Linked DNA regions of Homo sapiens: region 2 is linked to region 1. Evidence: fine-mapped expression QTL. A gene starts in region 1. The other region holds a variant in brackets. All regions are shown on one strand. Distances are from middle to middle.

Region 1 (11,990 bases):
TGTCATAAACAAGCCTCTTGTAGCTTCTTACAGAAAACAGATTTAGTCTAGCATGAAACACCTCTGCATCTCATTGAAACTGAAGAGGCTTGCAGATTTGCTTTCGTTGATGTCCACGTTACTGAGGATTGACTGAGTATAGACTGGAGACAGGTTTTTGGCTTATCACAGCACTGAGGAAAATACAAATGCACAGACTGTCAGCATGATGTCAGAGGCCAGAGTTTGGTGGGGGCAGATGGCAGGGCGACCCAAAAGATGCAGAAAAGGTAGACTGGGGCCACTGGGTCTTAAGAGGAGCTGTGAAGTTGTGTGGAAGCCAAGGCTGGGTCTGACATCCCTGCCAGGAAGCAGGTTGGACAGAAACCACTTGCTAAAAGCGTCTCTATGGTGCAGTGATTATGTGTACCCTGTGCTGTTGCTCAGTAGTCTCCTTGAATGTTCAAGTATCTCATCCACTCAGTTTTGTGATTCCTGGATATTTGTGTGTTGTAAAGTGTTTTGTTAGGTGGTATGAACCAATGTGAGGAGGCTTGAGACAGGGTTATGGATTTCCAGAGCTCTTCCATGTAGAATACCCTGCCTTCTTGAAGCAGTTCCACCACCAATATGATGGGGAAGGGCAGGAACTTATGGCAGGGTGGGGAGAGGGTTTGCCTGGAAGTTAAGAGAGTGGCATCCACTTGTGGTAACCCCTTACGATGATGACATCCCACACACTAAGAGGTACAAGCAGGACCAAAGTTTTGGACTGTTCCCTCTTCTCCCCTCCACTGTGTTTAATGTTCACTCACTGCATTAAATAACAACAAAGATGGGACAAAACCCACTAATACTGTGGGGAAAAAAAATTTTCAAGAGCAGAGGAAAGTCTTTCTGCCTTTTTATAATTACTTTTTTTATCATTTAATTTACCTGCCTAAATAAACATCTTCTACAGAATATCTGTCATTCAACCATGCCAAGGAGTTTGTGCCAGCCTTTTCAGACTCCCAGAATTGGGTGTTCCTGGGTTATTTACATAGCTGAGCAGTGTCCAGGGGAGGTGCGCAGTGAACTGTCAAGGACTTTCCAGACTGTCTTCTCTTCAGACTTTTATAATCTCCAGTGGCATCTTTCCCTTTTCTTTTGTTCATGACCTGACCTGAAGCAGCAGATTTGATAGACTGGCAAAGATGAATAGGAAAAACTTTGACTCTTGCCCAGTGCCTGCCTGCCTCTCTCTCTCTCCTCTCTCTCTCTCTCTTTTTAAACCACCATAGACTCTCACTTATTTTGGAGGAGTGTATGTGCATGTGTACACATATGTACATATATAAAAACAGTTGATGTTTTGGTGTATGGGGTAAAAGCCCCAGGAGCATACAGAACTTGAGCTGAACCTGGTCAGTAGAAAGGGAAACCCCAACCCTTTCTTGATTTTTGGAGACACCCAGGACTAATGGATACTGTAGTAGACATGTAGTACTATAGTACCGTAATATTCATCTCTCCTCATTTTAGTTGCCTTTCAGATTCTAAATGTTTGGGATCATTCCTATCATCTTAGTCTCTTCAGGATCTTTAGTATTTTCCTGGTTCTGAGGAGGCTTGAGACAGGGTTATGGATTTCCTTGTTCTGTGTCTTTATCCCTACTGATAGTTCCTCTTTCTCATTTTGCAAACTACCCAGAGCTCCAAGGACAGCCTGAAGATCTCAGTGCCTCAGGCTCTGAGGTACTCTGCTCACAGGCCCCAGACAGATGCTGTTGGGTAAACTCAAAGCTTCCTATGAGAAGCTTCTGAGATGTAGCAGGTCACAGAAGTGTTCACCTGTTTCATCTGAGGATTTCAGTTCTGAAGTGATCTAGGCATGTTTGGTAAAAATGTTTTTGTGAGAGTTCTTTTTTTAAGAAAGCATTATGCAAAAAGTCACTTTTAAGGGCATTTAAAAATTTTTAAGTAAAGCCATTCTTTGGCTTTTTTGGACTATTTGTGGATACTTTGTTTACATTTTGAATATTAAAATGTGCATCATCTTGTCGGCCATGCAGTCCTGCAGGCATCAGTGCCCTGGCTGTCCTGTGAGTCCTCATGCAGAGCAGGGCCATCATGGTCAGCCCTTGTGAGTAAGTGGGTATACGCTGAAGCTGACTTCCGTCTGTGTCCTGCCCTCCCATCCAGCACTCTCTATGGAAATAGTTGTCATTTCCTCAGTGATGGTGTGTCTTATAGTGATGGTTGTAATGGTGAATGGCTAGTGTCATTTTGTTTAATTTTGTTTTGCTTTTTGATGGTGGATAAGATGAAATTTTAGCTGTTTCAGCATCAATCCAACTTAAAAGCATCTTGGACTTTGTTTTCCCTTCCAAACTAAAAGATCAAGGCATGTATTAGACACAAGCATATTTGCTGCCTCAACTCCTCTGACACCCATATTAGGAAAAGGCCTGCCACCAAAGCAGGAAGCTGCACACTCCTAACCCTTCTCCCAGGGTGTGGGGTCCCTTGACGTCATGAAGAGCTATTGCAAGGTGCTTCTGTACTTTTCCAGCCTGGAAATGGAGGGTGACTGGCCCTGGCTCCTGCTATGAGAAGATAACCAGCCTCATTTTCTCAGTGCCCCAGAGGTCTAGGATAGGATTTCTAAACTGGAATCATCCTTAATCACCTTGAAGATCCCTTAAGAGGCATTTGACTGGTGCTGCCGTCTGTGTCCTCAAAGCAATGCTGGTGGCAGCGTCCTGTGTACACATGCAGAGCTAATACCCAAACTAAAAACTGGGTAACTGGCCCTGAAGTGCTTCCCAATCAGTAAGCCCACAGGGAAATGTTTGATTTTTATGTTCTGTTGGATTTTGGTTTGCTTGGCATATCTAAAGGTGCCTTTACTTTTCTTTTTTTTTTTTTTTCTTTCTGCTTTGTTTTGTAGGACTTGTTCTAACATGGAAAACAAGTCCAGAAGACTCTCCTCTGACTGTTACCTTTGCCCCAAGCCACCCCAAACTTTTATGCTCATGTTTTATTAAAGCAGGTGCTCCCTGGAATCTCTGGGACATTTTTGAGGCATTTGAAGCAGAATATAGAGTGGTCTCATCTCCTTCCTTAATCTTCCTGGTGGTTGGGATGTTCCACTTGTATCATAGATTTTTTTATTACAGATATGCTCCACTGTTTTTAAATGTGAACTTGTGCGCAAATGTGCAGATTCAATGTTCTTGTTACAGATTGAATAAATTTTTATTTTGAAGATGAAACGTGTACTTCATCAGATGCAACAAAGGAGGGAGGTGCTGGAGAAGGTGGGAGAGTCAGAAGAGGAAACACAGTGAACACCAGTAGTTTTCAATGATTGATCCCAGTCATGTCACCCTGAAGAGAGAGCTGAGTCCCCAGAAATAAATGAAACACCTCAGCCCACTGAAAAATGTCTAGAAATGGGACATGAACATCATGAGATATTTAGTGGTGCCATTCATCACATACAAGGCAGGACTACCATCTAGGGAGAGCTCAGTTTCCAGTTCCCAATTGCTAACAAAATTTGAAGTCCCCGCCCCCCTCAAAAAAAAAAATCACTGCCTTGAACTAAAGTCAGCCTGCTTCATTCTGAATCATCCATATCAAGTGGGAGGGGCACAGTGCTGGTCTTTAGCTGGAGTGCATGACGGTGAAGGTAAGGTCTTTCACAAAATATTCTAAGGATCCCTGGGATCCCTGACCAATCTAGATAAGTTCAGTCTTGGTTTTCTAGCCAAAGCAGATGGACCAAATCATGGCTAAGTTGCGAGCTACCTCATCCAGAAAATGGCTTCCTAAAAGATGAAATCCATGGCTGTCTTCTATGGATTGCCGTTCAGAGCTAACAGTTCAAAAGGGAGGCACGAAGCCCAAGTAGCTTCTCTCCCTGATTGGTTCTTCCTGCCTTAACTCTGCCCACTCACAGCTCTGTCAGGCCTTGGCAGCCAGAAGAAGGCTAGAGGGCAGGGCTGAGCTACGCCAGGCCCAAGCAAATATCTGAATCCCTGTACCCAGAAAGCACTGCTCTTCCTAGATGATGGAACTGAAGGGAGCACGCATTGAAGGATTCCTGCTTCCTAGTCCCAAGCGCTTCCCTCTAGAAGGGAGTCTCCTGTTCTCTTTAAAGAGAAGGAGGGTGGGGGTAGGGGAGATGCCACTTCAGAGGAGGCAGCACATAAAATCCCTACTCTGCTAAGGAGTGGTGCAGAGTTGGAAAGAATCTGACCCAATCCTGTTCAGAGAGCTGTAAAAATATGGCGATTGAGCCAGGACTGGAACCAGTTTTTTAATTCATTCCAGGCATCCTTTCCTCTGTGCCACACAGTATAAACTCTCAGTTACGTTTTAGCTCAGCACTTGTGAGATAAAGTGGCACTGTCCTTCAGGGAGAGACAGAAATGCATGCTGCTGAAAAGCAAGAACCAGATGCCAGACCACGTGGGTAAGAATCATAGCTACATCAACTACCAGTTGAGGTTGTGATGGGTAAGCCACCTAACCTCTTTGTGGCTCCATTTCCTCAACTGTTAAATAGGGATAACAACAGTACCCACCTTAGAGGATTGTTTTTTGGTTTTTTGTGCGTGTGTTTTATTTGAGACAGAGTCTCATTCTGTCACCCAGGCTGGAGGGCAGTGGCATGATCTCAGCTCACTGCAACCTCTGCCTCCTAGGTTCAAGCAATTCTCGTGTCTCAGCCTCCTGAGTAGCTGGGATTACAGGTGTGCATCACCACACCTGGCAAATTTTTGTATTTTTAGTAGAGATGGGGTTTTGCCATGTTGGCCAGGCTGGTCTCGAACTCCTGACCTCAGGTGATCCACCTGCCTCAGCCTCCCAAAGTGCTGGGATTACAGGCGTTAGCCACCCGCGACCAGCCTAGAGGATTGTTAAGAGTATGAAATTAATACGTATAAAGCCCTTAGTGCCAGTGCCTAGCACATAAGCATGGGTTATTGTTGTAAAGGAGCAACTGAGTCACTCAGGTATTTTCCTCCTAATCATGTGCCTGGAATCTTTAGGTAAAAGAGAGATGACTCACATACCCTCATACCCTGCCCCAGCACCCCTACGCCAGGAGTTATTTCTGGAGCACTCGTAACAGTTTTTTATTCTGTTCCCCTACAAGCCACTGACTCTTGATTTGATTCTGTCCCTACAAGCCACCTGGACTCTTCCTGAGAAACAAAGGAGCCTCGTGGGCCCTTCATGGTTTCTACCACCTTCCCTCCCTTTCCTCCCCAGTGCTGGTTCCTGCCCTTCAGAAGGCTGTGTTCCATTCACTCACTCCCAGGTGTGCCCTGGAGGGTGGGAAGTAATAACTGGCCCCAGATGCCCTTATGATCCAAGGGAAGAAATCCAGGCAATGTGCAGACACTGGGTAGACTGGAGCTACGGGACTGGCTGGTCTTCACTGGCTGTATTTTGATCAGGTTATCTTTAATCTCCTTGACCTCGGTCAACATTCAGTTCTGTGAATATTGGGGGAGACGGGGGAAGCTTACCTGGAACACAGTCGGGCGCCAATTCAAACAAGGCCCAGAAAACATTAGGAGTCTGGCCTCTGAGTTGGCTTCTCTGACCCCTAAAATGTGACTAGAGACCGGTGCTAGCCTCTTCCCCCTGCATCTGGGAGGGGAGGGAGTGTCAAGGTGGGTTCACTTTACACTCGGTCCTCCCCTTGTTCTTTCAGCTGCTTCCTGCCCTGCTCCATGGAATCTCATCTAATGGGGTGAAATGCCTAGCACACAGCCAGCATTTTAGGTTTCTCAAATGATCGCTATTGCCATTCATAACAATAACTAACATTCACAACCCTGTGTCGGGTGCCCTCTCACTTGCCCTACATCAGGATCAGCCTGGGTCCTCATTCTCTAGGGCCTCTTTCCCCCAGGGAGGCCTGGAAGTGCAGTCCCGCAGTCCCGGCCGATCGGGACAGCTAAATTGGGAGCGCGATTGAGGCTGGAATGCGGGTGGAGGCACCTGGTCTCCCTCGGCTGCCCGCTCTAGGGGCGCACGCCCCCTCGCCCGTTCCCTCTCCAAGCGTCCTGCTCTAGGTCTGCGAACCCGAGCCTCCCCAGCCTACCCGGGAGTCATGGAGGGAGGGAAGCAGCGTGCGCACCTAGCACACAGCTGCACATTTATTTTCGATGGTTCTCCGAGGCCGGCGGAAGCTGGGAGGGGAGTCGGGGTCGCTCGACTTTCCCGCCGCTGGAGGGGGCGGGGCAACTTGGGCTCTGGCCCCGCCCCTATGCTAGCCCCGCCCTCTTAGGTTGATGGCAGCGGCAGCTGGGGCTGCAGCGGCGCCGGGCTCTAGAGAGCCGCAGGATCGGCCAGAGTGCGGAGCTGGACACCCGGGTCCCAGATACTACAGACACCCGGAGAGGTGGCTCCTTCGCCCTGAAGCCTTCCTCGGCCCCCTACGCACTCGGGCCCCTTCCGCAGAGGATTCGCAGCGTGAGCGCCCCGCAGCCCGCTCAGGACCAGGTACCCAGCCCCCCACACCCGGCCGTCACCGCAGCCAGCGGAGCGGGCGGGGTCCCTGAGGGGCAGAGGTCTGCGCCTCCTCCCCCCGCGCCGCCAAATTCGGTTTCGGGCGGGGAGGACGTGGTGTCTATATTTGGCCGGACAGCAGCCAGCGCTCCCGGAGGGCGCAGACACCTCGTCTCGCAAGAACGCAGTGTCAGGGCAGCAGGCTGAAGAAGGGTGCAGGGAGGCCGGGCCTCAGGCTCGGGGCCGCAGACGCGCCTTGAAGGGCACACGGATGCTGGGGCTGGGGTGGGGCAGGAGCCACTGGCTGGGGCTTTGGGAGTGCTCAGTGTGTCCTCTAGGGAGACCCTAGCTGGAGAAAAGGCACCTCACCCTCCCCACCCCTGCAAATCTGGCTTGGCCGTGGCGGGGGCAGGGGTGGAGGATGGGGTTGAAGACCCCACCCCTAGAAGAGTTCACTAGGAAGAAGGCCCAACCAGGGCAGAGGACCCAGAGGAGAAACCGGACAAGCCTATGGTAGGCAAAAGCCAGAAGACCATGATCAGGGCTTCCTGGAGAAGCCAGTGCAGAAAGGAGTGGGAGAAGAGGGATCCACCTCACTCTGTGCTGCCACCCGTCCCCCCACAAGGCATGGGATGAAAACAGTAGCAGAAAGGACTCAGATTGGTGGACAGGAGGAACTTCCCCCTTGGCAAAATTTTAGGAAAAGGCAAAACCCCATCTGCCTGAACTATTCCAGAGATGCGAGTTCGGTATCCTGTGGTGGCTGCAGTCTTGGCCCCATACCTGGCTTTAAGCCAAGATCCAATGGTCAAGTCTTCTGCTTCTGGACAGGGTGCCTCTGGGAGCTACAACCACGTCCGTGAAGAGATGCTCATCAAGGCTGGCGGTGGTGGGGGCGGGGGGTGCAGGCAGTGTGGCATTGAGGCTCCTCCCAAAAACATTCCAACGTCCAGAAAGCTTTCAGTCTGTTAGGCTCCACAATCCCCTCAGCCTGGGTCTCTGTGGAGAATTCAGGCCCCAAATCCTAGCCACTTACATTAAACAGCATTTTACACAGCAAAATAACTTTCCCATACTTTGACCACCTTGAAGAAAGCTCCCTGCTTCTAGGACCAGACACTATATGGATTTATACCTGACTCCTGACCACATAACCCTTCTCATCAGCCACCCCTCCACTCCTCCTCCCTCCCGCAGCTCACAGGACTAAGGACCAAAGGCATTTCTGGGCACTGAGATCCTACCTCTCTGCCTGCAGCTATGAGCAGACGTGTGGTTCGGCAAAGCAAGTTCCGCCATGTGTTTGGGCAGGCAGCAAAGGCCGACCAGGCCTACGAGGACATCCGTGTGTCCAAGGTCACATGGGACAGCTCCTTCTGTGCCGTCAACCCCAAATTCCTGGCCATTATTGTGGAGGCTGGAGGCGGGGGTGCCTTCATCGTCCTGCCTCTGGCCAAGGTGAGGGATCAGGGAAAGGAAGCAAGTGGGAGGACACTAGCTGGGGCCCCTGGGAACTCCTGAGCCTTTGTTCTCACCTAGTTCCATTCCATAGTCAGGAGAAGCATCTGTGTGGATTGGCTCCTCCCTATTCCCCAAGCCCTCAAGGACCAGAGGGGAGGCCACCCCACCCCACCCTAACATCAGGGTGGCTTACTCCCACTCCCTAGCCCTCCCACCTCTCCATGCACCACCCCATTCCCAGCAGGGACCAGGAGGGGAGCCGGGTGATGGAGATGGTTGGGACACAGCACAGCCAAGCCTGGCCAGATTCCATCACTGCCTCTCCTAATGCCGCATCCCCTCATGTTTTGGGTGTGGAGAACCTCCTCCCTAGCCCAAGATGACCATTTGATTAAGTCACATCCCAGAGCAGCAAACTGAGGACAGGGTCAGGCTCTATCCAAAGAGTCCCTGGTTACCTCCAAGGACACTTGCAGTGAAGTAGAAAGAAAGGGAACGGAAAGGAAGGGGGACATGACACATAAAGCCAGAGCCCTCCCTACCCTCAGGATGGGGACCAGGCAATGACTACCACGTTAGCTTCATAACCTTAAGCCCCTTGACCATCCACATCCCAAGGATGACTCTCCCCCAACCCCCAAGGTATGACCTTGACCTGGATTCTGGCCCCTACACCTTGTTAGGGTAGGCTCCACAGGTGGCGGGGTCAGGAAGAGGCCTGAAAAAGCCAGTGACTCACCCCAGACAATGCAGACATCATCCTGGGACACAGCCCCAGGGCTCAAATTTCAGCCGGAGCTGCCTCCTCCCCCAATATGTCTGCTCTTTCAGTACCACATAGCCACCCTCTCCCCCGCTGCCTGGTCTGGACCAGTGTCTGCCCCTGCAGAGGTCTCAGAACCCCCACAAGCAGCCTGTGAAGACCAAAAAATAGATGGGCCCCCAGCTCCCATTTGGGGATAGTAGGCACCAGGACTGCTTGCTGCTTGTGGTTCCAAGGTAAAAGTGGTTCACAAGGAAGAGATCTGCCAAGGGAGGCCAGGAAAGGGCTGTCCAGCACTACACTATTATCTCACCTTGACCTCTTCCACCAGGAGATTCCCACAGACACTTCAATAGGAGAACAGGCTGAAGAACAGCCTCCTCCAAGTAGGTGTCTTTGGAAGAGCACTGGGCTGGAAAGTTCAAATCTCAGCTCTACAAGTATCTTGTTGTGTGTCCTTGATGAGGCCATCTTACCTCTCTGTGTCACAGTCCCTAATATTAAATTATTTCAACTCTGCCTTCAGTAAAGTGCAGGAAGTGGACTGGATGGGGTTAGAAGTGCAGAGAGGGATCTGCAAAGAGAAAATAGGTAATAAGGAATCGAGATGTAAGCAGATCTGCTACCCACTCCCCAAAAAACACACAGGAGAGTAGCCCCACATCTTCTTCTCCAACCCCTCAGACAGGGCGAGTGGATAAGAACTACCCACTGGTCACTGGGCACACTGCCCCTGTGCTGGATATTGACTGGTGTCCACACAATGACAACGTTATCGCCAGTGCCTCAGACGACACCACCATCATGGTAGGAGCCAGGTGGCTACTGCTGGGCAGTTGAGCAGGGGAGCAGGGAAGGCTGCCTCACCTGTGCTGGGGAAGGTGCTAAGGGTGGTAATAAGGGAGGTGCTGGGTCCCAGGGCCCTGCCCTGCCCAGCTCCTGGACTATTTTTAGCTACATGCCCACCCCCTCCCAGGATGCACTGCTTAGGACTAATTATAGCCATGGCCAACTTGGTGCCTGGAGAGCAGCAGGGCAGTGCTCTGAAGTCTCCCTGCTGGAGTGAATGGGAGGTCTCTGGAGAGCTGGCAGTGCCCCCTCCTGGCTCCCAGCTGCTTCTGTTCTAGGCATGCACCACCACATCTTGCCCTGTATTTGACCCTTACCACTCAAGAGAGCCAGTAGGGTTAAAAAAAAAGGTAGGGAAGGAGTGGAGGGACAGGGTGGCTCCTCATTCCACCCACCATATACCTTTTCTTCCTACCCAGGTGTGGCAGATTCCAGACTATACCCCCATGCGCAACATTACGGAACCTATCATCACACTTGAGGGCCACTCCAAGCGTGTGGGCATCCTCTCCTGGCACCCTACTGCCAGGAATGTCCTGCTCAGTGCAGGTCTGGGGGCTAAGGAGGGGTCCCCCATAGATGGGTGGGTGGTGGCAAAGGTGGGACCCAGGTGACCATGCCTGGCCACTCTGGGCAGGTGGTGACAATGTGATCATCATCTGGAATGTGGGCACCGGGGAGGTGCTGCTGAGCCTGGATGATATGCACCCAGACGTCATCCACAGTGTGTGCTGGAACAGCAACGGTAGCCTGCTAGCCACCACCTGCAAGGACAAGACCTTGCGCATCATTGACCCCAGAAAAGGCCAAGTGGTGGCGGTGAGTGCCTGGCCTGGCCACTCCCCAGAACCCCTTGACCAGTGGCCAGCTGTCAGCACCCTTGTACCCACCATTATCAGAGCCCCTGGTCCCGGCTTTCACCTGTCGCATCCCTGCTCCAGAGACTAGCCCCCTTCCCCCGTCTCTGCAACCACAGGTCTCTGCCCTAAGTAAGCCCCCAGCCTGCAATTCTCTGCCCGGCTCCTGTTCCCTCCCCTCCCTTGCATCTCAGAAGCTCAGAGAAGGGCTCCTCGCTTTGGGATTGAGGAGGGGAGAAGCTGGAAACTCCATCCTCCCACCAGAACCTGCATGAAACCTGAGCTCCTGGACCCCTCTCCTCTCAGCCGGCACCCAGACGCATCTTCCAGGGTCTGGGGCCTGACACTGGCTCGAGGGCTGGCCCTTTCTCCTTGTGGACCCGCTGGGCGGGGGATGGGGCAACCCTCGCGCGTTGCTTATCCCAGCCGGATGCCCTGGGAGGGCGGCGGCCCTGGCCTCGCCAGCCTCAAGTCTAACCTGGGGTGCGGGTGCGTGGGCCGCGTGCATGTCTGCGTGGAGCAAGCGCGCCGAGAGCGGTCGGGGCTGGCGCCGGGGCGCTCTAACCCACTAACCCGGCGAGCAGGAGCAAGCCCGGCCTCACGAGGGCGCCCGCCCGCTGCGGGCTGTCTTCACCGCAGACGGGAAGCTGCTCAGCACCGGCTTCAGCAGGATGAGTGAGCGGCAACTCGCGCTCTGGGACCCGGTAGGCCAGGCCGCGCCGGGCGCGCTAGCTCGCTCCTTCTCTGGGTCTGCCGGGAGCGCCTTCCCGGGCTGTGGCTGGCGCCCAAGAGGCCAGAGCGGAGCGGGGAGCTCCCATTCGGGAAAAGCCTCGCTGCGACTCCGGGGAGCCAGCAGACACCCCTGCTCTAGGGATCGGCCTTTGAGCGCGCTTAAGGGTTCGGGATCGGCTGAGAGCCGCGTGCCTCCTGCTCTCTCCAGGCCCGGATGCTCTCCAGGTCAGGGGCCAGACGTGGCCCCGCAGGAAGCTGAGTGCTTAGGCCCCATTTGTCTCTTCCCCGCATCCGCTCCTCCACCCCGGACACCCAAGTCAGCAAGCTGGTTGCTCATCCCTCCATGCTCCTCAGGGCAGGCAGCTGGGTGATGTCCCTCCCTGTCTCCCCCTCCCCCCAGGAGAGGTTTGCGGCCCACGAGGGGATGAGGCCCATGCGGGCCGTCTTCACGCGCCAGGGCCATATCTTCACCACGGGCTTCACCCGCATGAGCCAGCGAGAGCTGGGCCTGTGGGACCCGGTAACGCAGCTGGAGGCTTGGGGTGTGTGCCTCGGGGACTGGCATCACGGGAGAGTGGCCAGGCGCCCCCCACCCGCAGGGCATGCCCACCTGGACAGGACTGAAGGCTGCTGCCACCTCTGCAGCGCCTGCCATTCTCACACCCACCCCTCTGCCCAGTTTTGCTGCGTCGCGTGAAGGATCCTGCGCTGGCGCCCCCACCTGGTGATGCCGAGTCCCTGGGGGTGGTTTGCTGTGACTGCATGCGGCGCGCAGCGGGTATATGTGCAGGGGAGGAGGAGCTATGTGCGCAGGGGAGGAGGAGAGATGTGCCCAG
Region 2 (11,990 bases), 63 kb before region 1:
ACCCAACCAAACCACACATTTTGCTTTAGCATTGAAAATAAGCCGGGCACAGTGGCTCACGCCTATAATCCCAGCACTTTGGGAGGCCGAGGCGGGTGGATCACGAGTTCAGGAGATCGAGACCATCCTGGCTAACACGGCGAAACCCCGTCTCTACTAAAAATACAAAAAATTAGCCGGGCGTGGTGGCAGGTGCCTGTAGTCCCAGCTACTCAGGAGGCTGAGGCAGGAGAATGGTGTGAACCCGGGAGGCAGAGCTTTCAGTGAGCCGAGATCGTGCCACTGCACTCCAGCCTGGGCAACAGAGCGAGACTCTGTCTCAAAAAAAAAAAAAGAGAGAAAATAGGACAAAGCCAATCTTTTCCTCCAGGGAAGCTCTGTGTTCCAAATACAGGCATCAAGCATTAACTGTAGTACTTAGAAAAACTGTAGCTAGTAAAATAAAGAAAGTGGTTTTATAGTACTCTTGCACGTTACCAAAGATCAACCATTTAATTAAAACATTAATCTGAGAAATTAAGAATTTTCAGGACATTTGAAGTAATTTCAATTGATGTTCTTAACTAAAGCTGAAGTGTTGATAAGGTACAAAGAGGTCTTTTTTGAGTATTTTGCAGGAGAATTCAAGAAAATGAGAAGTTTTATGATTTTGGTTTTCATCATATGTTGCTTTCTAAAATGGAAATTGGTTCATTTTTTCTAGCTATAAATGTATTATGTGGGGTTTTTTTTTCTCCCAAACAATGCAAAAAGGTATAAATAAAATAAAAATCACTCTGTATTCTACATTCTGAGAAAATCGTTCTCAGCAATTTGGATAAGTATCCTTCCACTCTTTTTTTAAATATGTATATATGAGAGAGAGAGTGTGTGTGTCTATGTGTGTGTGTGTGTCTGTGTGTGTGTGTGTGTAAAGAGTGAGAGGAAGAGCATTGTTTTGTTTCTACGAAAATGTGATAAAAATAGAAATACCTTTTTGTAACCTACTTTCTTCATAGTTTATCATGGATATCTTTCCATGTCAATAAATAAATCATGGTTTTTAATGGCTACACAGAATATAATTCATATTTAAGAATTTCATACAGACTGATTTAAAAAAAAATTCAGAGACTTCCTGAAGCTCTAATCTTTTTCTTTTGAAGACAGTGTTCTTTAGTTTACTAGTGTCACAAGTGAAGCCTGTTTTAATTTTGGCTATTGATTTTGCTTCATTCTTTTGACTAGCATTTAATATTTACCTACTTTTGGAACCTTTCTCTCTGATGGATTGGGTGAACTGCCTGTCTTAGACATTGGGCCTTTATAATGTAGTTTACTGGGGGTAATTAATTTCTTTTCACCAAGAGTCTTACATCATGCACACAGGGGCATGCATGTAAGACTCTTGGTGTAAAGAAATTAAGTCTTTTTTTTTTTTTTTTTGAGACAGAGTTTCACTCTTTTGCCCAGGCTGGAGTACAATGGCGCAATCTTGGCTCACCACAACCTCCGCCTCCCAGGTTCAAGCGATTCTCCTGCCTCAGCCTCCTGAGTAGCTGGGATTACCGGCATGCGCCACCACGCCTGGCTAATTTTTTGTATTTTTAGGAGAGACCGGGTTTCTCCATATTGGTCTGGCTGGTCTTGAACTCCCGACCTCAGGTGATCTGCCCGCCTTGGCTTCCCAAAGTGCTGGGATTATAGGCGTGAGCCACTGCACCCAGTGGTGAAAAGAAATTAAAGGCAAAGTTACAGTTTAAGCTTAAGGAGGAGTATTTCCTGATGTTAGATGATGCTGAGGAGAGAAGCTCTTTTTTTTTTTTTTTTTTTTTTTTGAGATGGATCTCGCTTTGTCACCCAGGCTGGAATGCAGTGGTGTGTTCTCGGCTTATTGCAGCCTCTGCCTCCTGGGTTCAACTGATTCTCACGACTCAGCCTCCTGAGTAGCTGGGATTACAGGTACATGCCATGATGCCCTGCTAATTTTTGTATTTTTAGTAATACTCCCACTGCAGCCTCCCGAGTAGCTGGCATGCCACTATGCCCAGTTTGTAAACTGCTTGTAATTAGGTTAAACATTTAAATTGGATGCCGAGGGAATAGCATTATTCTTTAATAGATGAGCTTTGAAAACAGATTGGGTTCTTCAGGAATAAAGAGGCAGGGGATGACTTCTCAGACCTACTTCAGTCCTAAGATTGCTGGATCCAATTCACCTGTAACTTGTAATAGGATTCCACATTTAGGCAGTAAATGTAGTTTCTTGGAAATATAATCTTAGTTACTATTGCTGCCAAGTTTTAAAGTCCAGAATAATTGTTTTGTTTAGACAATTAAAATGGACTTCAGTAGTGTCCTTTTCAAGGAGAACTTTAGTTGATAAATCAAATGCATCTCAATTATTGTCTTATTCCAGTCATTGATTTCAATATAGGTTCTGGAGACTGAAGAAACATTGGAAATGCTGTCCTTTTCAAAATTAGGATATTATGTACAAAATTGCCATTTTAAATTTATTTGATTGTGTTAATAAATTATTAGATTTTGCTTAATCTTATCTCCAACAGAGGAATACGAAATAAACCTTAAACCAGGATGGGCGTTAGACTTTTCCTTATGGCTGCGGCACATAGATTTTTAATTCCTTAACCTAGAATCTTGAAGCTTAAAAGGAACTTTTTTTTTTTTTTGAGAGTCTCACTTGCCCTGTCGCCCAGGCTGGAGTGGAGTGGCGTGATCTCAACCTACTGCAACCTCCTCCTCCTGGGTTCCAGCAATTCTCCTGCCTCAGCCTCCTGAGTAGCTGGGATTATAGACACATGCCACCACACCCAGCTAATTTTTTTTGTATTTTTAGTAGAGAGAGGATTTTGCCCTGTTGGCCAGCTGATCTCGAACTCCTGACCTCAAGCGATCCACCTGCCTCAGCCTCCCAAAGTTTTGGGATTACAGACGTGAGCCACTGCGCCCGGCCTAAAAGGAACTTTAATTAAAGTCTTGGGTTTATCCCCTCACATTTCAGAATTTTTTCTTCAAAGATTTTTATCTCATCCTTCTAATTAGGATATAGGTGTTGAATCAATACTGTAGGTACTGTCTAGAGGCCTGTGATCAAATTCCAGGAACTCTTAAGTGCTATTCTTCCATTTAAGAAGCTTAAAATTGACCAGTCTGGACAACATGGTGAAACCCCATCTCTACCAAAGATACAAAAAATTAGCCAAGCATGGTGGCGGGCACTTGTGGTCCCAGCTCTTTGGGAGGCTGAGGTGGGAAGATTGCTGGACCCCGGGAGGCAGAGGTTGCAGATCACACCACTGCATTCCAGCCTGGGTAACAGAGTGAAACACAAAAACAAAAAAGAAGCTTAAAATTGAATGGATCTGAGATATGCATGTTATTCAAGCCTAAGTCAGTATTAAATGTCTGGGGCCCTTCTCATTAGGTTTGGGAACTTCTGTTACAGTTTGAGTAAGCAAGGGAGAGCCAAACATTTGAAATGCTTTTGATATTATAAAATAAACTTTAAAGAGACATCTGGCCGGGCGTAGTGGCTCGCACCTGTAATCCCAGCACTTTGGGAGGCCGAGGCGGGTGGATCACAAGGTCAAGAGATCGAGAGCATCCTGGCCAACATGGTGAAACCCCATCTCTACTAAAAACACAAAAATGAGCCAGGCGCAGTGGCAGGTGCCCGTAATCCCGTTTACTTGGGAGGCTGAGGCAGGAGAACCGCTTGAACCCGGGGGGCGGGGGTTGCAGTGAGCCAAGATCACACCACTGCACTCCAGCCTGGGCGATAGAGTGAGACTCCATCTCGAAAAATAAAAAAAAAAAAACACTAATGTTTGCAATGAATATCACTTACAAAGAAACTCTTGCAGCCCACTTCTAACTTGGCTGGTAACTTGCATTATAGATAATACTTATGAAAGTTATATTTTTCCTTTTATCAGCTTTGACTTAGCCAATCAGTTGCCACTGGTTGGTGTAGGAGCTGTAAATAAATTGTCAGAAACAAAGTTCATTTGTTCCCAGGCCATTTGTATTTGAGCCTTGCCAGAAATTCTTGGAGCGTTGACAGAGAATAAAAGAGCCTCTAACACATTCAGGAAACTTGGGCCAAGGGAGGCCCAAATATAAATATGTAATAATATGCGAGATCTTGTTTATAAGAAAATCCAGTTTACCTGCACCAGGATTTGTGATTAATTAACATGTTGTAGAGTGTTTCTACAATCAGAGAAGGAGTCAGTACTGCCTCCCGGTCTGCCACATGTACATTTACTATTTATTCATTTTTCTGTGTGTATAATATCCCACCCTTGATCCCAGCCTTCTAGATCTTAGTCCATTTAAATGTTAGTTCCGCTTAGCTTCTCATAAGTGAATTTGGTTTTAAATGCTCAATTACTTCATGGAACATGAAGTCAAAAGTACAGCTCTCTATCTTATGCATTTGGCATCAGAATGGTAAGCATTACATTCTTGTTATATCCGTTCTTATTAGAAACAAGATTTAATGTAGCCACTTCTGCTGTTTGTGCTTCCCTAGCTTTTCCTAGGAGTATCAGAATAGAGACAAAAAGATAGCCATGGGAGTCTCACCTCTGCCTTGCTAAATGGGTCATTTGAGCCGTGTAACTATGCCTCTTTTTCCCTTGGCCTGGCCATTTTGGAATGGTGACAGAGTTAACAGGAGGGAGACTCCAAGAACAGCAGCACTGAAAAAAAAGTTCCAAATAGAAATTTCTGACAAATATAATGAGCCAGTTGATGGATTAGAATTCTGTTTCTCTAAGGAATAGGGGTTATTTTATACAGAAGAATTTGCCTCCAGAGCACATTTTTCTGGCTTCAAAGATCTGTCATTTTGCCAGGTGGGTGGCTCACGCCTGTAATCCCACCACTTTGGGAGGCTGAGGTGGGTGGATCACCTGAGGCAGGAGTTCGAGACCAGCCTGGCCATCTGGCCAACATGGTGAAACCCTGTCTCTATAAAAATACAAAAATTAGCCAGGCATGGTGGCATGTGCCTGTAATCCCAGTTACTTGGGAGGCTGAGGCAGGAGAATCGCTTGAACCCAAGAAGCGGAGGTTGCAGTGAGCCGAGATCACGCCATTGCACTCCAGCCTGGGTGACAGAGGGAGACTCTGTCTCAAAAAAACAAAAAGAAAAGGCTGGGTGCAGTGGCCCGTGCATGTAATCCTAGCACTTTGGGAGGCCAAGACAGGTGGATTGCCTGAGTTCAGAGTTCGAGACCAGCCTGGGCAACATGGTGAAACCCCATCTGTACTAAAATACAAAAAAAAAAAAAATTAGCCGGGCGTGGCAGCATGTGCCTGTAGTCCCAGCTACCCAGGAGGCTGAGGCAGGAAAATTGCTTGAACCTGGGAGGTGGAGGTTGCAGTGAGCCGAGATCACACCACTGCACTCCAGCCTGAGAGGCAGAGCAAGACTCCGTCTCTTAAAAAAAAAAAAACTGTCATTTTAAAACTATTATTAACAAATGAAAGAAGAGTAGCCTAGACTATATAACTCGATGAGGGCATAGATCATGTCTCTCTCTTCTACCACTGAATCCTCAGCACTTGGCATTGTTATTGTATATATAATATATGTGTAATAAATATTTGAATGTGTTGCCTGTAGTTGTTTTATTTTTAAGGCTTATAAGATACCTTTTTGAACTTATCAAGGCTGGGCGCGGTGGCTCACGCCTGTAAACCCCAGCATCTTGTGAGGCCGAGGTGGGCAGACCACCTGAGCTTGGGAGTTTGAGACCAGCCTGACCAACATGGAGAAACCCCGTCTCTAATAAAAATACAAAACTAGCTGGATGTGGTGGCGCATGCCTATAATCCCAGCTGCTCGGGAGGCTGAGGCAGGAGAATCGCTTGAACTCGGGAGGCAGAGGTTGCGGTGAGCCGAGATCACACCATTGCACTCCAGCCTGAGCAACAAGAGCGAAACTCTGTCTCAAAAAAAAAAAAAGAAAAAGAAAAGAAAGAAAGAAAGTACATCCTCACAAACTCATTACTGAGCTTTTTTTTTTTTTGAACCAGAGTCTCACTCTGTCACCCAGGCTGGAGGGCAGTGGGGTGAT[CTCA/A]GCTCACTGCAACCTCCGCCTCCTGGGTTCCAGTGATCCTCCTGCCTCAGCCTCCTAAGTAGCTGGGATTACAGGCGTGCGCCACCACGCCCAGCTAATTTTTTTTGTATTTTTGGTAGAAACAGTGTTTCACCATGTTGGCCAGGCTGGTCTTGAACTCCTGACCTCTGGTGATCTGCCTACCTTGGCCTCCCAAAGTGCTGGGATTACAGGCATGAGCCACCGTGCCTGGCCATTACTCAGCTTTAATAACCATCAACCTTTTGTCTGATTTCTTTCATCTGTCCCCACTCCCTGTTAAATTTTTTTGTTGGAACATTTTAAAGTAAAACTCAGAAACCATGTCATTTCACTCCAGGTACTTAAGAAAAAGTCACAGTAACCACAATGCTGTTATTACATTAACAGTAAATCCTTAATTTCATCTAAGACCCTGTCCATATTCAGATTTTCTGAGGGTCCTTTTAAAATTTAATTAAGAATAAATTAAAACTTTTGACAAAAAATGAGAAGTTTCTAAAAATGCAATCTCCTTTCATTATCATCGAAACTGAAGAAAATCTTATAGTGCATTAACATGCAGGAATTCAGTATAGCAAAGTCAGTACTCCCCTTAGATGATGCTAATAGTTTGCTCCATATTATAATTGTTTGTGGGAATTGCATCTCTGAGACCAATGCTCACATTCATATACCTCACATTTCCCTCTTCAGTCTTTATTACACACTGTGGTAATTAGTATAAATTGCACTAATAACAAACATCTTATTGAGCATTTACTGTGTGCCAAGCACTGTGCTTTACTGTATTATTTTATAAGATTCTTAAAACAACCTGACAGTTAGGTATTATTATATCTCCCTCCAATTAATTTAGTAACTTACCAAAGTTTTTATAGCTAGTGTACGAGCTGAGATTTTAATTTATGTCTCCTAACTACTGGCTCTGCTGCCTTCGTGAGTATGCTTTAAGATGCTGATGAAAAAGGGTTGAAATGATCTGAAATTAATGTCCTAAATTTCATAATTTCTCTGTTGTCTGCTAAATTCCAGGCTGTAAGACTGGAAAGTACTTACCAGAATCGAACACGCTATATGGTAGTGGTTTCAACTAATGGTAGACAAGACACTGAAGAAAGCATCGTCCTAGGAATGGATTTCTCCTCTAATGACAGGTATGGTGGTACCATTTCAAAATGTGAAAACTGCTTTTTAAGTAACCTGTTCCAGTTGCTTTTTTTTTTTTTTTTTTTTAATGGGGACGGAGTGTCATCACTCTGTTGCCCAGACTAGAGTGCAGTGGCTCAATCTCGGCTCACTGCAACCTCCGCCTCCCGGGTTCAAGCGATTCTCCTGCCTCAGCCTCCTGAGTAGCTGGAATTACAGGTGTACACCACTATGCCAAACTAATTTTTGTATTTTTAGTAGAGATGGGGTTTTGCCATATTGGCCAGTTTCAAACTCCTGACCTCAAGTGATCCACCCACCTCAGCCTCCCAAAGTACTGAGATTACAGGCGTGAGCCACCGTGCCTGGCCCCAGTTGCCTTTTATCACAAAAATATCTTGTGCAGTTCTGCTGTTAAAGTACAAGACATAAAACTAAAGAACATAAGTATCTTAGCCACAGTCTTGAGAAACAAGAATGTTTAGTGAATGTCTTTGGTCGTGTGTTTCCAATTTACCATTATTCCATACCTTCATCTCATCTTTAGATAGTCACAATATAAAGCAAGTGGTTTCAAAGTTACATTTCCATGGAAAAAAAGCTGCCTTTTTATTTCTCTTTTTGAGACAGCGTCTCGCTCTGCTGCCCAGGCTGAAGTGCCGTGATGCAGTCACAGCTCACTACGGCCTCAAATTCCTCCTGGGCTCTAGGAATCCTTCCACCTCAGCCTCCTAAGTAGCTAGAAGTACAGGCATGCACCACCATACCCAGCTATTTGGTCTTTTTTTTTTTTTTTTCCTTATTTTTCTGGAGAGAAGATTTCCTTATGTTGGCCAGGCTGGTCTTGAATTCTTGGGCTTAAGCAATCCTCCCACTTCGGCTTCCCAAAGTGCTGGGATTACAGGCATGAGCCTTGCACCTGGCCTACTCTATTGTAGTCAGTAATGATTCACTTTGGTGATTCTAGGGCACCTACCCTTTGTGGTAGTATACCAGTAGTCCCAGATACAAAGAGATCCCACTTAAACTACAGTCTGTTTTGTTTAAACCTTGCTTTTACCAAATGCTATGCCTCCTTTTTCCTTCTATTGAGTTAAAAAGGATGGTGGGCGGGGCGGGGATGGGGTGGTACGGGATGGCTCCTTAAACTCAAAGCAGAACTTTTTATGTACCTTTGGCTTTAGCTGTACTTTACATTCTATGATGAAAGATGACACACAACACCTGGCCTTTTCGTGTGTCCTTAAGGTTTGTTGCTTTCCTTTTTTATTTTTCCCACTTTTTCTGGAGAAACCTTCGGAAGACTTTGGAATGTGGCTGCTAAGCAGATCTTTACGCTGTGGATAATTAGCCTCAGGAAATCCTGCCAGATGTCTCAAAGCATTGACTTCCTGGTTCAGGATTAGAATGGAACTATGGGGTAGCTAGGGGTGTGACCCAGGCCTAGGGAAATTTAGCCACAAAGAGAGGAGGAGCCTGGGAATGATTCTAATTTTCCTGATGTTGAGGGGAAAAAATCACTTTGTCACTAGAAAGTTTCCCAAACCAATGTTTACCTTATTCCTATATAGAAGTCAACCTGAAAATGACTTGGGGGTTCACAGGAATTCCCAAAGCCAAAGTTATTAGCTTGTATACCACTTAACAGCATTTAATTGTAGGCTCTGAATTTACACAGGCTTGTAAACCAGATTTAGGAAGATTTCTCCTGCATGGTTTTAACTTCTGATTAAGCAACAGAGCTTTCAGTAAGCATTTTCCTATAACAGCACCTACCTTGTTTACATTCATTAGGATTTTAGGACCTCTAATTTAGGTTTTTAATCTTTCTAGATCTGTGTTGTCCAGTATAGTAGCCACTAACCATATGTGCCCCTTCCTTCCTTCTTGCCTGCCTGCCTTCCTTCCTTCTTTCATCTTCCTTCCTTTTCTCTTCTCTTCTTTTCTTTTTTCCTTTTTGTGAAGAACACAGTCTCTCTGTGTTGCCCAGGCTGGTCTCAACTCCTGAGCTCCTGCCTCTGCCTTCCTGAGTGCTGGGATTATAGGCATGAGCCACTGCATACAGCATGCACGTGTCTTTTTAAATAGATTAAAATTAAATGAAATTTCAATTCCTCAGTTCTAACTAGTCACATTTCAAGTATTCAGTAACCGTATGTGCTAGTGGCTATCGTATTAGACAGTACATGTATAGAACATTTTCCATTCTTGCAGAAAGTTCAGTTGGACAGCACTGTTCTAGCTCATATTTCCTTTGTTCAGTTCTCCCTGACCCCCTCCCTTGAAAACCCTATAAAACAGGAACAGGAACCTCATGAAGCTTCAATTGAATCTTCCCCTAGAGACAGAAGACAATAACTGCAGATTCTCCTGACCCAGAATATGAGCAAGCACATGTCTAATCATTTCTCTTTCACTTTGTCCTAAACTTTACCAGAAAGAATGCATATTAATATAGGTATCCAGTAGTTTATACTCAGTAAATTACATCTATCTTTTGCCAATGGCCCTGTCTGAATCATATCTGACCAGTGTCACTAGCCAAAGGAAATTATAGTTTATAGAAGACAAACTTAAAACATGAAAAGCTAGAAACTAGTTTTCATTCTGTTTGCTAAACTTGCTATTATGAAATTCCCATACATCCTCTGCTTTAATGAGTTCCTTGGACAGTAAGAAGTCTCAGATGCTCAGGTAATCTAAAATCATTTCTGTCTCAGTTGTTGTTGAAGGAATTTGAATTTGTATCATTTCATATCTGAGAATGTAAATGTTAATGCTTCAAAATAGTATTAAGCCAAAGTGGAACCCAGATTATGACAAGTACAAATAGTTCTTAATAATACGTTGCAGCCAATTCATTTAGCCCATTTACAAGTTCTTTGAGTATTATGTTATATTTTAATAATTTTTTAAATATGCAGCATAATCTTGGTTTCTAAAGTGTAACATATTTTAAGTTATAAAATAATAGAGCTTCATGGTTTTTTGGGGTTTTTTTTTTCCATTTCTTTTTGTACCCCTAACACCTTGAAATGTCTGGTACATAGTAGGCACTAAATAAATTTTTATTGAATGAATTGAATATTTACTAAAATAAGTAGTTATACTTAAATGGAGAAAAATCTTGAGAGACTGAGGTAACCTGGATAAAAATACCAAGCGTGCCTTATTCAGTCCTTTCCTTCCTGTTGCGTGAAAAAGCTACTTTTTTTTTTTTTTTTTTTTTTTTTTTTTTTGAGACAGTCTCACTCTGTGGCCAGGCTGGAGTACAGTGGTGCAATCTCAGCTCACTGCAACCTCCGTCTCCTGGGTTCAAGCGATTCTCCTGCCTCAGCCTCCCAAGCAGCTGGGACTACAGGCGCACACCACCATGCCCAGCTAATTTTTGTATTTTTAGTAGACGGGGTTTCACCATGTTGACCAGGATGGTCTCTATCTCGACCTCGTGATCCGCCCGCCTCTGCTTCCCAAAGTGCTGGGATTACAGGCACCACGCCCTGCTGAAAAAGCTACTTCTTAATGTAAAAAAGCACTCTGGCCTGAATACAAGCCAAAAATGTAATGTCGATTCCTGTATATCAATGTCACTTGTCCAAAGGTTAACCAAAATCTGGTCACAAGCTTATAGATCACACTCTTTTGCAGCTTCTGTATCTTTTTATATAGTTAATTTCTAGATTTGTCATTGGGCTACCAACCCACCATATTTATACTCAAAATTATACTTGTTGCTAAGAACCTGGCTAAGCACTCACTAAATACAAAACAAAAAGCTACTGTAAAACTATCCCCACTTCATCTTGGGAAGCCGTTTTCAAAACAAATTTTTTTGTGCGCTCATCTCATCTACTCAACAAAACTTGTGGTAGAGCTGTCTTGCTCCTGGACTCTGGCATGGTAGCTGTGTTTCTGTTGTTCAGGTCCAGGTTCTAATGTGGATAAGCTGTTTCAGTCTTGATTTGAATCTCCTGAGCTCTGGAATCACTCTTTTTTTTTTTTTTTTTTTTTTTTTTTTTGAGAGGGAGTCTTGCTGTGTCTCCCAGGCTGGAGTGCAATGGCGCAAATCTCAGCTCACTGCAACTTCCACCTCCCAGGTTCAAGTGATTCTCCTGCCTCAGCCTCCCGAGTAGCTGGGATTACAGGTGTCTGTCTGCCCCTGCACCCAGCTAATTTTTGTATTTTTAGTGTAGAGATGGAGTTTCGCCATGTTGGCCAGGCTGGTCTTGAACTCCTGACCTCGGCCTCCCAAAGTGCTGGGATTACAGGCATGAGTCACCGTGCCTGGCCTGGAATCACTCTTAAGGTGTTAAGCAGCACAGGCCAGCAAGTGTAGTGGAAAGCCCAACTAAGGGCTAGCCTCCTTTAACCCTGCAGTGACTAACAGTTAAAGTTTGGTATTCATTATGTTGTTTTTAAAGCATAATGGTTTCCCCTTCCCCCAATCACTTTCAGATATATTAGAGCACCCATTACAGATTCATATTCAACATTTGTTTTACAGGACAGTATATTCACATATATTGTTTTATTTTAAGTATGTTATGTCTTTATACCTATATCTATGAGAATAGGTTTTATTATTCACAGTTCAAGATGAAGAAATTAAGGCTGAGAGAGGTTAAATAATTTGTTTAAAAAAAAGTTGTAATACTGAAGGAAATCAATCCCAGATCTTTTGGCATAGTAGATGTTCAATAAATGGTAATGACTATTACATTTTAGGCACTT

The links. PIP is the estimated chance that this variant, and not a neighbour inherited with it, causes the effect.
Region 2: its variant is fine-mapped to the expression of CORO6 in whole blood (TOPMed, PIP above 0.99).

What each region holds. Positions count from the first base shown.
Region 1 is chr17:29,617,184-29,629,173 of GRCh38, reverse strand. It overlaps CORO6 (coronin 6), which reads left to right and starts at 6,262. Exons shown (of 11, transcript NM_032854.4): 1 at 6,262-6,486; 2 at 7,690-7,950; 3 at 9,401-9,523; 4 at 9,985-10,114; 5 at 10,203-10,384; 6 at 11,555-11,674. The coding sequence starts at 7,753. It overlaps SSH2 (slingshot protein phosphatase 2), which reads left to right. Exons shown (of 16, transcript NM_001282129.2): 16 at 1-3,236. RefSeq lists enhancers at 4,462-5,661, 8,569-8,863 and silencers at 6,449-6,598, 9,841-9,910.
Region 2 is chr17:29,679,840-29,691,829 of GRCh38, reverse strand. It overlaps SSH2 (slingshot protein phosphatase 2), which reads left to right. Exons shown (of 16, transcript NM_001282129.2): 6 at 7,146-7,267. Among named protein-coding and RNA genes, the nearest start is that of SSH2-AS1, 46 kb to the right of the region's middle. The variant CTCA/A (reference allele first, on the strand shown) is at 6,090.